3 linked regions of the Homo sapiens genome follow. The protein of the gene in region 3 purifies or fractionates together with the protein of the main gene of each other region. This does not show direct contact. Each region holds a gene or a part of one and is shown on either strand. Other genes may lie near its edges.

Evidence for each region.
Region 1: the proteins of CRACR2B (region 3) and CARD19 purify together in Homo sapiens (affinity purification with mass spectrometry; 3 studies listed by BioGRID and IntAct, with this or other methods). This does not show direct contact.
Region 2: the proteins of CRACR2B (region 3) and GHITM purify together in Homo sapiens (affinity purification with mass spectrometry, with the first as the bait; one large-scale study listed by BioGRID). This does not show direct contact.

What each region holds. Positions count from the first base shown.
Region 1 is NC_000009.12:93,102,714-93,106,221, forward strand, and holds part of CARD19 (caspase recruitment domain-containing protein 19), read left to right. Parts: intron 1-3,508. UniProt on the Homo sapiens protein: Plays a role in inhibiting the effects of BCL10-induced activation of NF-kappa-B. May inhibit the phosphorylation of BCL10 in a CARD-dependent manner.
Region 2 is NC_000010.11:84,142,506-84,146,013, forward strand, and holds part of GHITM (growth hormone-inducible transmembrane protein), read left to right. Parts: intron 1-149; coding exon 150-249; intron 250-1,489; coding exon 1,490-1,601; intron 1,602-2,369; coding exon 2,370-2,511; intron 2,512-3,508. UniProt on the Homo sapiens protein: Plays an important role in maintenance of mitochondrial morphology and in mediating either calcium or potassium/proton antiport. Mediates proton-dependent calcium efflux from mitochondrion.
Region 3 is NC_000011.10:826,563-830,720, forward strand, and holds the start of CRACR2B (EF-hand calcium-binding domain-containing protein 4A), read left to right. Parts: upstream 1-1,356; 5' UTR 1,357-2,045; coding exon 2,046-2,210; intron 2,211-2,289; coding exon 2,290-2,401; coding exon of another isoform or gene 2,402-2,621; intron 2,622-2,797; coding exon 2,798-2,978; intron 2,979-3,405; coding exon of another isoform or gene 3,406-3,423; coding exon 3,424-3,570; intron 3,571-3,687; coding exon 3,688-3,775; coding exon of another isoform or gene 3,776-4,058; coding exon 4,059-4,151; intron 4,152-4,158. UniProt on the Homo sapiens protein: Plays a role in store-operated Ca(2+) entry (SOCE).

The DNA.
Region 1 (3,508 bases), on a different chromosome or scaffold from region 3:
GTTTTGGGGTGGGTTTTTCTATTTCTGCAAAAAACACTTAAGATTTTGATAGGGATTGCATCGAATCTGTAGATTGCTCTGGGTAGTGCTTGCAGCAATGTTTTGTGGCTTTCAGTGTACAAGATTTTTGCCTTCTTGATTAAATTTTTTCCTAAGTATTTTATTCTTTTCAATGCTATTATAAATTGAGTTGTTTTCTTAATTTTTGGATTGTTCATTGTTAGTATGTAGAGATGAAATATTTTTGTGTGTTGATTTTATATCTTGCAACCTTGCTGCATGCTTTTAATTAGCTCTAACTTTAAAGAAAAAGATTTTAGGGTTTTCTATATATAAAATCATGTCATCTGTGAACAGAGAAAATTTTACTTCTTCCTTTACAATTTGGATGCCTTTTATTCCCTTTTCCTTTTTTTGCCTAATTGCTCTAGTTAGGACTGCTAGTACTATGTTGAATAGAAGTGGTAAGAGCAGACATCTTTATCTTGTTCCTGATCTTAAGAAGCTTTCGGTCTTTCACCGTTAAGGTATGATGTTAGCTGTGGGCTTTTCATATAAAAATGTCCTTCAATATATGAGGTGGGATGGTTCCAGGAATCCCCTCAAAATAATCTGAGGATGTTCAAATCCCTTATATAAAGTGCTATAATATTTGCACCTATACACATCCTTCCATATATTTTAAATTATCTCTAGGTTACTTATAATACCTAACACAATGTAAATGCTATGTAAATCGTTGTTGTACTGTATTTTTAAAACTTGTATTTTTTTGGTTGTATTGTTATTTTGTATTGCTTTTCCCCAAATATTTTATATCTGCTGTTGATTTAATCCCTGGATATGGAAACTGCAGAGATAGAGTGCCAACTCTATGGCCTTTATCATGTTGATGAAATTTCCTTCTGTATTAGTCCATTTTGTGCTGCTATAACAGAACACTTGAAACTGGGGAATTTATAATGAGCAGAAATTTATAGGCTCATGCTTCTAGAGTTTTGGAAGTCCAAGATCAGGGAGCTAGCATCTGGTGAGGGTCTTCTTGCTGTGTTATCCCATGGTGGAAGGCAGAAGGGCTAGAGAGAATGAGAGGGAGCAAGAGAGGAAGAAAACAAATTTGAAACTTCAAGCCCTTTTATAATTGGCATTAATCCCTTCAAGACAGTAGAGCCCTCATGACCTACATACCTCCCATTAGGTTCTATCTCTCAGTACTGTTACTTTGAGGATTAGGTTTCCAATACATGCTTGTTGACACATTCAAACCATAGCATCTTCTAGACCTAATTAATTGAATATTTATATCAAGAAAGAATGATGACATTTATCAAATGCTTTTTCTATGTCAACTGAAATGGCCATGTATTTTTTCCTTCATTCTATTAATGTGGTATATTTCATTGATTGATTTTTGATTTGTACATGTTAAACCATCCTTGTATTCCAGGAATAAATCAATGTATACTTCTTTTAATATGCTGCTGAATTTGATTTGCTGGATTTTATTAATTTTTCCATCAATATTCATAAAGAGTATTGGTCTGTAGTGTTCTTTTCCATTTTTCTTTTTTCACAGAGACAAGGTCTTGCTGTATTGCCCAAGTGTGGTCTTGAATTCCTGGCATCAAGTGACTCTTCTGCCTCTGTCTCCCAAAGTGGTTTTCTTTTCTTGAAGTGACTTTGTCTGATTTTGGTATCAGGGTAAAGCTGACCTCATAGAATTAGTTATGAAGTGTTCTCTCGTCTTCAGTTTTTTTTGTAAGTTTGAGAAGGATTGGTATTAGTTCTTCTTTAAATGTATGGTAGAATTAACCAGCAAAGCTATATTAGTTCTTCTTTAAATATATGGTAGAATTAACCAGCAAAGCTATCTGGTCCTGAGCTTTTCTTTCTTGGGACATTTTTGATTACTGATTTAATCTTACTAGTTATTGGTCAGATTTTCTATTTCTTCACAGTTCCGTTTTGGTAGATTGTGTTTTTAGGAATGTTTTCATTTTATTTACGTTATCCAATTTATTGGTATACAAATGTTCATAGTATTCTCTTATATTCCTTTTTATTTCTGTAAAGTTCATGGTAATGTCCTACTTTTATTCCTGATACTAGTAATTTGAGTCTTCTTTTTCTTTGTCAGTCTAGCTAGTTTTGTCAGTTTTATTGATGTTATCAAAGAATCAACTTTGGTTTTCTTGATTTTTCTCCACTGTTTTTCGATTCTCTATTTCATTTGTCTTCACTCTAATCTTGATTATATCCTTCCTTCTGTGAGCTTTGGGTTTAGTTTGCTCTTCAAGCTCTCTGGTCTTTACTTTTTCCTTTTCTCATTCCTTAAGGTGTAATGTTAGGTTACTGATTTAAGATTTTTTTAATATATGCATTTGCAACTATAATTTTCCCTCTCAGCATTGTTTTTGCTGCATCCCTTAGGTTTTAGCGCGGTGTAAGGTGTGTGTGTGTGTGTGCACGCGCGTGTGTGTGTGCGTGTGTGTGTGTGTGTGTGTGTGTTTCTGCCTTTCTCATGTTACCTCCTAATTTACCTCATGATTTCTCTTTTGACCCATTGGTTTTTTGTTTGTTTGTTTGAGACAGAGTCTTGCTCTGTCACCCATGCTGGAGTGCAGTGGCACAAATTCAGCTCACTACAACCTCCACCTCCCAGGTTCAAGGATTTCTCGTGCCTCAGCCTCCCAGGTAGCTGGGATTACAAGCGTGCGCCAACATGCCCGGCTAAGTTTTGTATTTTTAGTAGAGATGGGGTTTTGCCATGTTGGCCAGGCTGGTCTCAAACTTCTGGCCTCAAGTGATCTGCCTGCCTTAGCTTCCCAAAGTGCTGTGATTACAGGTGTGAGCCACCATGCCTGGCCCCATTGGCTGTTTAATTTTCACATATTTGTGAGTTTTTTTAGTTTTCTATTATTGATTTCTGGTTTCATTCTATGTGATCAGAAAATATTTTTTATATGATTTCAACCTTTTTGAATATATTAAAGCTTATTTTGTGGCTACAAACTTGTTTTGTGGCCTATCTTGGGGAATGTTTCATGTGCACTTGATAAAAATATCTCTTCTTTATTGTGGTATGGAGTGTTCTGTGTATGTCTGCCAGGTATAATTGGCTTACGGTGTTGTTGAAGTCCTGTTTCCTCATTTATCTTCTGTCTAGTGGTTCTGTCTCTTACTGAAAGTGGTGTTTTGAAGTCTCCAAATATTATTATAGAGATATCTATTTCTCCCTTCAATTCTGCCAGTGTTTGCTTCATATATTTTGAAGCTCTGATATTTGGTGCATATATGTTTATAACTGTTACATATTATTGATGAATTTATCCTTTTATTAATACATAATGTACTTTTTAATCTCTTCTAATCGTTTTTGACTTATAGTCTATTTTGTCTGATATTAGTATAGTTACCTCATCTCTCTTTTGTTTACTATTTGTATGGGTTTTTTTTACATCCTTTCATTTTCAACTTCTTTGTGTCTTTAGATCTAAAGTGAGTCTTT
Region 2 (3,508 bases), on a different chromosome or scaffold from region 3:
CTAATAAATTTCCATAGTGAAGTTAGGTATATAGAAAGTACCAAGTTTCTTTAACTAGAGTTTTCTAGTGTAAAGGGATCTTGCATTTTATTTTATTAACGTTCTGTTTTCATGTGGGTGGTACGTGTCTTTGTTTGCATGTGTGTCAGGAATATGCCACCAAAACAAGAATTGGGATCCGGCGTGGGAGAACTGGCCAAGAACTCAAAGAGGCAGCATTGGAACCATCGATGGAAAAAATATTTAAAAGTAGGTGGCTATCTTTAGTTTTTAACCTAGAATCTATGGATATGTTTTAAGAGGTCCATGAACAACTTCCTAAAAATATATGTGTATTTGTGCATTTTCTGGGAAGACCACATTATTATTCTGAGATCTGACGACCCAGAAAAGATTGGTACTTTGCACTGGATTCAGTGGTTATCAATCATATTTCTTCCAGTGGAAATTTTACTTTCCTTTTTTTTAAAGAAAAGGATTATTAATATGCCATGGTCCAAAAGGTATACTCTGTTGAGAAAGTTCATTTTAAGTGTGTAGAATCCTCATTCAAGCATATAATATTTGTGTATGTTTCAGATTAAGAATAAATCACCAACACATAGATGTTAATAAAAGCCTAGCTGTCCAAGAAGAATCCTTTAACTCACTGCTCACATAGGGCCTCAGGAGGGCAGTACTTTAATATATTGCCAGTTTGGTTCAGTTTGGATATCAACTTTGCAAGTTCAGAAACTAGATTGTTAATCATCCTAAAGCTATTCAAAGAATACCACTGCTCCTTAATAATCTTGCAAAATGTCTTTACAGTGGGAGAGAGCCCTAATCAGTATCCTTCAGGTCATTTCTTTCTGATTTGACCCTAGAGACCAAATCATGCAAATTATGTAGTGACAGCCTAGTAATATTCTTAGTAAACGAATTAGACTAAAAGAATAAGATGCCCTTTATGAATACCTCTATTGAGTTAGAGTTGATTAGTTGCCTCTCAGTACCCTAAAACGGGAGCCTCCTCTCACTTGATTCTGCTGCATAAACACTGATTATATTTTCTCTTTTTTCTTGATTTCCACGTAAAGCATCATTTGTGTTAATACCATGCAGTATGGTATGACTGTTAACATTTCCTTCTCATTTTTTACTTTCCATGAATGTCATGTGAATATACTTCAACCTCTTATTAGTAAAATAATAGGTATCACAGAAGTAGCTCCACGTCTACAGGTATACTGCTCCCTCAAATATTGTTGGAGGGAGGTTGAAGATTCACCAAGCCTGATCCTTTCTTTTTTGTACTGATTTTTACACCTTTGTTTCAGGAGTGTTTTTTTCTACTGGTTACCTAACATTGAGGCAATTTCTGTACCCCATATGCACTGATTATGGCTTCTATTAAATATGGTACATGATTTGATTCCCTTGATAAATATTTTAAAGGCTTTGTCCAGATGTGCCAGTACTAACCTGCATTTCCTTCTGTGTTCTGCAGTTGATCAGATGGGAAGATGGTTTGTTGCTGGAGGGGCTGCTGTTGGTCTTGGAGCATTGTGCTACTATGGCTTGGGACTGTCTAATGAGATTGGAGCTATTGAAAAGGCTGTGTAAGTAAATTGTTTTAAGTAAACTGTTCCTAAACAACTCCAGCCTTAAAACAAAAATTCAAATTTTCTTCTCATTCCTATCTTTAGTCACTTTGGAATGTTTTGTGTCTAGTCTTTGTGTATACACACAAATAGAGAATCTCTTTTTGCTTCTTTGACATTTATTTATTCAAATCTAAATAAAAATCTTTTAGCAAGGTTATATGTGTTTAAGCAAAGAGAAAATATGAAATATGTTTTTTGTTTGTTTGTTTGTTTGTTTTTTTGGAGAGAGAGTCTTGCTCTATCTCCCAGGCTGGGGTGCAGTGGCGCGATCTTGGCTCACTGCAACCTCCGCCTCCTGGGTTCAGGCAATTCTCCTGCCTCAGGCTCCTGTAGGTGGGATTACAGGCACATGCCACCATGCCCGGCTATTTTTTGTATTTTTAGTAGAGACGGGGTTTCACCATTTTGGCCAGGCTGGTCTCGATCTCCTGACCTCAGGTGATCCACCCACCTCAGCCTCCCAAAGTGCTGGGATTACAGGCATGAGCCACCGCACCCAGCCAAAAATATGTTGTTTTTTATATGTGCTTGTATGTTTTATCTCATTTAGTCCTTACAGTAACTCCCAAGTATGCATAATTATCATAATTATTTCCATGATAAATGAAGTGAATAAGATTTAAAGTGTAAAATGATTTATCCCGAGGTCGCCCAGCTAGTGTGTGACTCAACCAGAAATCAAATCTGTAATTTCATAGATTAATCATGTCATGTTTCTTACAGAATTTGGCCTCAGTATGTCAAGGATAGAATTCATTCCACCTATATGTACTTAGCAGGGAGTATTGGTTTAACAGCTTTGTCTGCCATAGCAATCAGCAGAACGCCTGTTCTCATGAACTTCATGATGAGAGGCTCTTGGGTGGTAAGTCAGCTGTTTTTGTTTTCCTTTTTCATCTAAAGATCAAAAGATTAGATAAAATATATTGGAGGGAAGGGTTATTAAATGGAAAGAATACTGTATTGAACAAGTTTTTGTTCAAATAATGTATGAATTACAGGTTGAGCATCCCTAATTTAAAATCCAGAAATGCTCCAAAATCCAAAACATTTGTAGTGTCAACATGATGCTCAAAGAAAATTGTAGCATTTCACATGTTGGGTTTTTGAATTAGGGATCCTGAACCCTAACAACAATGAAGTGTAATGATAAATAGTCCGAAATCTGAAGTCTGAAACACTTCTGGTCCCAGACATTTCTGATGAGAGTTACTCAACCTGTATTAGTGCAGCTGAGATAAAAGTAGGAAGTTCATTCTAGGTAGGTCAGCTATTATTCTTTATTAAACATGTATTCGAATAATACCAGAGGAGTTAGAAATCAAACTTACAGAGACAACATTTTTGTCTAGCAGCAGATATCAGACAGCCTCTAATTTGTAGCAGTTTACTAAAAAAATAAAGCAAATGCAAAATCATCTTAGAAGTCAGAGGGAAATGCCTATGCAGTTAAGAGCAGAATAGTGCTGCTACTATTATTCCTAAGATTCTTGACCTTATAGAAGATTTTATATTTAATCGGTTTCTCTGGAGCCCTTGTTATTTTGCTAGATAAGAGAATTTGAATATGTGTCCCCTATTCTCCTGCTATTTGGTAGAAGAGATGAACTGGAATAAGTGGCACAGATACGCAATAAGAAAGTGCAAAGTCAGTTGAGAGTTTCTGTCTTGGACTGTTAGGCAAGTTCCGTGAAGGAGACATTTATTTCATCAGGGTTGTTGAAGGCTAACATGTCTCATTTATTTTAGAAGTAGACAAGAGGGCCAGGTGCAGTGGCTCACACCTGTAATCTCAGCGTTTTAGGAGGCTGAGGCAGGAAGATTGCTTGAGCCCAGGAATTTGAGACCAACCTGAGCAACAT
Region 3 (4,158 bases):
TCTTGTTGCCCAGTGCAATGGCACAATCTCGGCTCACTGCAAACTCTGCCTCCCGAGTTCAAGTGATTCTCCTGGCTCAGCCTCCCAAAGTGCTGGGATTACAGGCGCCCACCACCACACCTGGCTAATTTTTTGTATTTTTAGTAGAGACGGGGTTTCGCCATGTTGGGCAGGCTGGTCTCGAACTCCTGACCTCAGGTGATCTGCCCCTGTCTCAGCCCCCCAAAGTGCTGGGATTACAGGCGCCCGGCCTACATGTTTATTGTTTAAAAACCGGGAAAGTATAGAGAAGAAAGTAAAGGCTCCCCACCCCTAGAGATAACCGCTGAAAGTATTTGGTCTGTTTCCTGCCCGGCTTTTTCCTACACACACTTTTTGGCGCCTTAAGTCGGGCTCCCCCCGGACAGGAGGGGCCCCTCCCAGGCGCTGGTGTCTGCGCCCGCCCCCCGCAGCCTTGTCCCTGCTCCGGGGGGTCCCTGGGTCTCTGGGGCATATCGTTGCTTCACTGCTCGCTCGAGCCTCCAGGGATCGGGCCGCCGGGGCAGCGCAGAGAGGCGGGGACAGGCGACAGCGGCGCAGAGTGGCTCCTCCCGGGGCCGGCCCAAGCGGGGGTCTCGGTGCCTGCGAAGCGGCAGGGGTCGCTCGGGGCCCAGTGCCCTCTACGTCCCGTCCGGGTCCCAGCTGGGGCGGGGCGCGCCCAGTGTTTCCGGGAGGAGCGGCCCGGGCGCGCGGCAGGTGCGGCGGCGCAACTCGCGGGTAGGCGACCGCTGGTCCCGCCGCTGAGGCCCCTCCACTGCCGCCCGCCCGGCACCCCCTCCGGGCCGCCGTGGCCCGCGCCAAACCTGAGCGTCTCGGTCGGGAACTCCGGTTACCCCCTCGGGGCGCAAGGCGGCAGGGGTAAGGGCGGGGTTGTCCCCCAGAGTTTCGGGGAGCACAGGAGGCTGGCCGCCCCACCCCACCAGCCCATCCTCCCACCTCCCTGGGGCCCTGCTGCCGCGCGGCTTCCGGCTGGGGTGGACCTCAGGTCTAGCCGGCAAGCCGGAGGGCGGGCGAGACAACAACGTGGCCTGGAGGCAATGGCCCTGGCCTCTCGTGTCCCCTTCTCTCACCCGCCCAGACTTGCCCTCTTTGGAGGTCGCCCGGGCTAAGGAACATGGAAGGACGCTGGGTGGAGAGTGAGGGGAGAGGATCCCAGCTCCCCGGTGGGGGAAGGCGGGTGTTGGTGGGGAGCAGCTTTGGGAAATCCGGGATCAGGACATTGTGTGAAGGACAGGTGGCTCTGGTTAGGGGGCGGGGCGTCCCTGCAAGGAGGTGGGAAGGGAGGCCCCAGGGAGTTCTGAAACGGGGAAGGGCCTCAGTGTTGTGGGGCAAGGGTGTTAGGTCTCGAATCTGGAAGTGTTCCTGAGTGGGGCGTCAGAGGCGAAGGGCTCTGCAGGCTGGGACCTTGCCCCTGCACTCTGTGGGCTCAGTTGTGGGGAGGGAGGGGCCGGTGGGCAGGAGGGAGAAGTCTGCCCTGCCTGCCAGCTGTCATGAGGCTGGGCCACACAGGCCCAGGCCAGGGGCTAAGGACTTGGTCAGGACTGGCTGAGCCCTCACTTGGGATCAGATCTCCAGTTGCAGAGTGTGAGGGGCTCCTCCCTCACTGACCCCAAGCCTGCTCCTCTCAGCTTTCAGGACCCCACCTTCCTTATCACCAGGTCTTCTCCACTGGCCCCTGAGATTGCCATCACCTCCAGCTCCTCCTCTCCTGAAGTTGGCAGCCCCTCCTGGGTTCCAGCCTCCTGAGATGCCAGACCCACTGGGGCAGTACCCACAGGCCCTGAGCCTACATCAACCACCCCAGTGACACCCCAAGCCTGCAGCATTTTCCACCCCCAGCCCCCTGGTCCCACCTTGCCTTCCGCCCACCTTCCCACCTGCTGCAGGGAGGGCCCTCGGCTGAGCCTTCAGACACACTTGCACCCCATCCGCTCCCCTCCTGAATTTCTTCTGACCCTCCCTTGGCTTCACAGCACCTGAAGGCCAGGCTGAGGCCCCCTGCTCTCATGGCCAGCCCTGGAAAGCCTGGGGCTGATGAGGCCCAGGAGGAGGAGGGGGAACTCGAGGGGGGCTCTGCAGGGCCGCGGGCTGCAATACTGGAGCAGGCTGAGGAGCTGTTTCTGCTGTGTGACAAGGAGGCTAAGGGCTTCATCACCAAGCACGACCTGCAGGTGAGTCCCCCACCCCAAGAGACTGCTTCGGCCCTGGGTTGACCGCAGCGGCTCATCTCTGCTCTCCTTCCCCGACCAGGGTCTCCAGAGCGACCTGCCCCTCACGCCAGAGCAGCTGGAGGCTGTGTTTGAAAGTCTGGACCGGGCTCACACTGGCTTCCTCACCGCCAGGGAGTTCTGCCTGGGCCTGGGTGAGCCTGTGGCCTGCCTATCCCCCACTGCCCAGAGCTGGAGGCCTGATCAGGAGGCCTGGCACTTGTGGCGCCCTGAGGGCTGCCGGTGCCTCTCGTCCTCCTCCCTCCAGGGCCCGTGCTTTGTCTGCACGCACTCGCGCCTGGGGGCTCCTAGCTGCGGTGGAGTGTGTGGAGCTGACCTTCCTGGCCCCCAGCTCCTCTCCTGTGCTAAGCTCCGGTAGGGCTGGGAGCTGGCCTGTCACCTCTTGTTTCCAGGCCAATAGGACCAGAATAAGGAAGGAAAACAGGAAACTGGGCCCTGAGAGAGGGCAGGATACTCGTTGGGAGGGTGAACGGGGACACAGCCACGGTGGCGACCCACAGCCCTGGTAATCGCTCGCTCCATGCCCGCAGGGATGTTTGTGGGGGTGGCGTCAGCCCAGGGAGCGAACCCCTGCAGGACTCCCGAGGAGACCTTTGAGTCGGGCGGGCTCGACGTGCAGGGCACGGCGGGCTCTCTGGATGAGGAGGAGGAAGAGGAGGAGCGATTCCACACTGTGCTGGAGCAGCTGGGGGTGGCCCCGGTCCTGGGCAAGTGAGTCGGCGCTGGCCCCGCTCCCACTGCCCGCTCTGCTGTTTCTCTGCCTGCATGCTGTCTGCCCTTGTCACCCGAGTGCTGGTTCTGCACAGGGTCTCTAGGCCGGGTCAGGCCCAGCCTAGCGTCAGCTGCGATTCCCTGGGAGGGACCCGGCATGATTTCCCGCAGAATTTGCATTTCATGAGGCAGCAGCCAGGGCTGCAGGGAGGAGGGGCAGCGCCGGGCGCGGGGCCACATACCGGCACTGCCCAGGGTACACACACCTCACCGACCACGCACGCCGGGCAGGGGCGAAAGCGCTCACGGGAGGGATGCCCTGCACGCAGCAAGTGCTCCTGTCCTGCCCAGGGGCGAAGAAGTCTCCTAAGGGTTTGCTGCTGGCGGAGGGAAGCCTGCTTCCCGCTTCTGCCAGCTCCAGCCTCAGTTCCCGCCCGCCCTCCAGGCAGCGGGCTGTGAGGACGCTCTGGGCCAGGCTGCAGCGCGAGCGCCCCGAGCTGCTGGGCTCTTTCGAGGATGTTCTGATACGCGCGTCGGCCTGCCTGGAGGAGGCGGCCCGGGAGCGCGACGGCCTGGAGCAGGCGCTGCGGAGGTGAGGGCCGGGGTGGGGTATGGGGGCCAATGGAGGGCCTCAGGGCAGCAGCAGAGGCGGTGCCAGGGGGCTGTAGCGCTGGCAAGTTCTCATCCGGGGTCGCCCGGTCCCCCGAAGGCGCGAGAGCGAGCACGAGAGGGAGGTGCGCGCTCTGTACGAGGAGACGGAGCAGCTTCGGGAGCAGAGCCGGCGCCCGCCGAGTCAGGTGGGCCTCGGGCCCCGCCCCTCCCGCCAGGCCCAATCCCACCTCGCTGGCCTCCCTGGCTCCGCCTTCTCTGAATTAATCCCTCCCCGACGGCCCCACCTCCGCGGGTCCAGGCTGCCCTCAGCCCGAGGAGATCCCACTGGGCCTCACGTATCACCCCCGTCCGGTCTTCTCCACCCGACCCCGCTCCGCCCGGGCCCACTCCCAGCCCCTGGCCCTCCGTGTACCTCTTTTGCATGGCCGAGCGGCCGGCGGAGGCTCAGTGGTCCTCCGTGCGTCCCAGAACTTCGCCCGCGGGGAGCGGAGAAGCCGTCTGGAGCTGGAGCTGCAGAGCCGCGAGCAGGACCTGGAACGCGCGGGCCTGCGGCAGCGGGAGGTGAGCA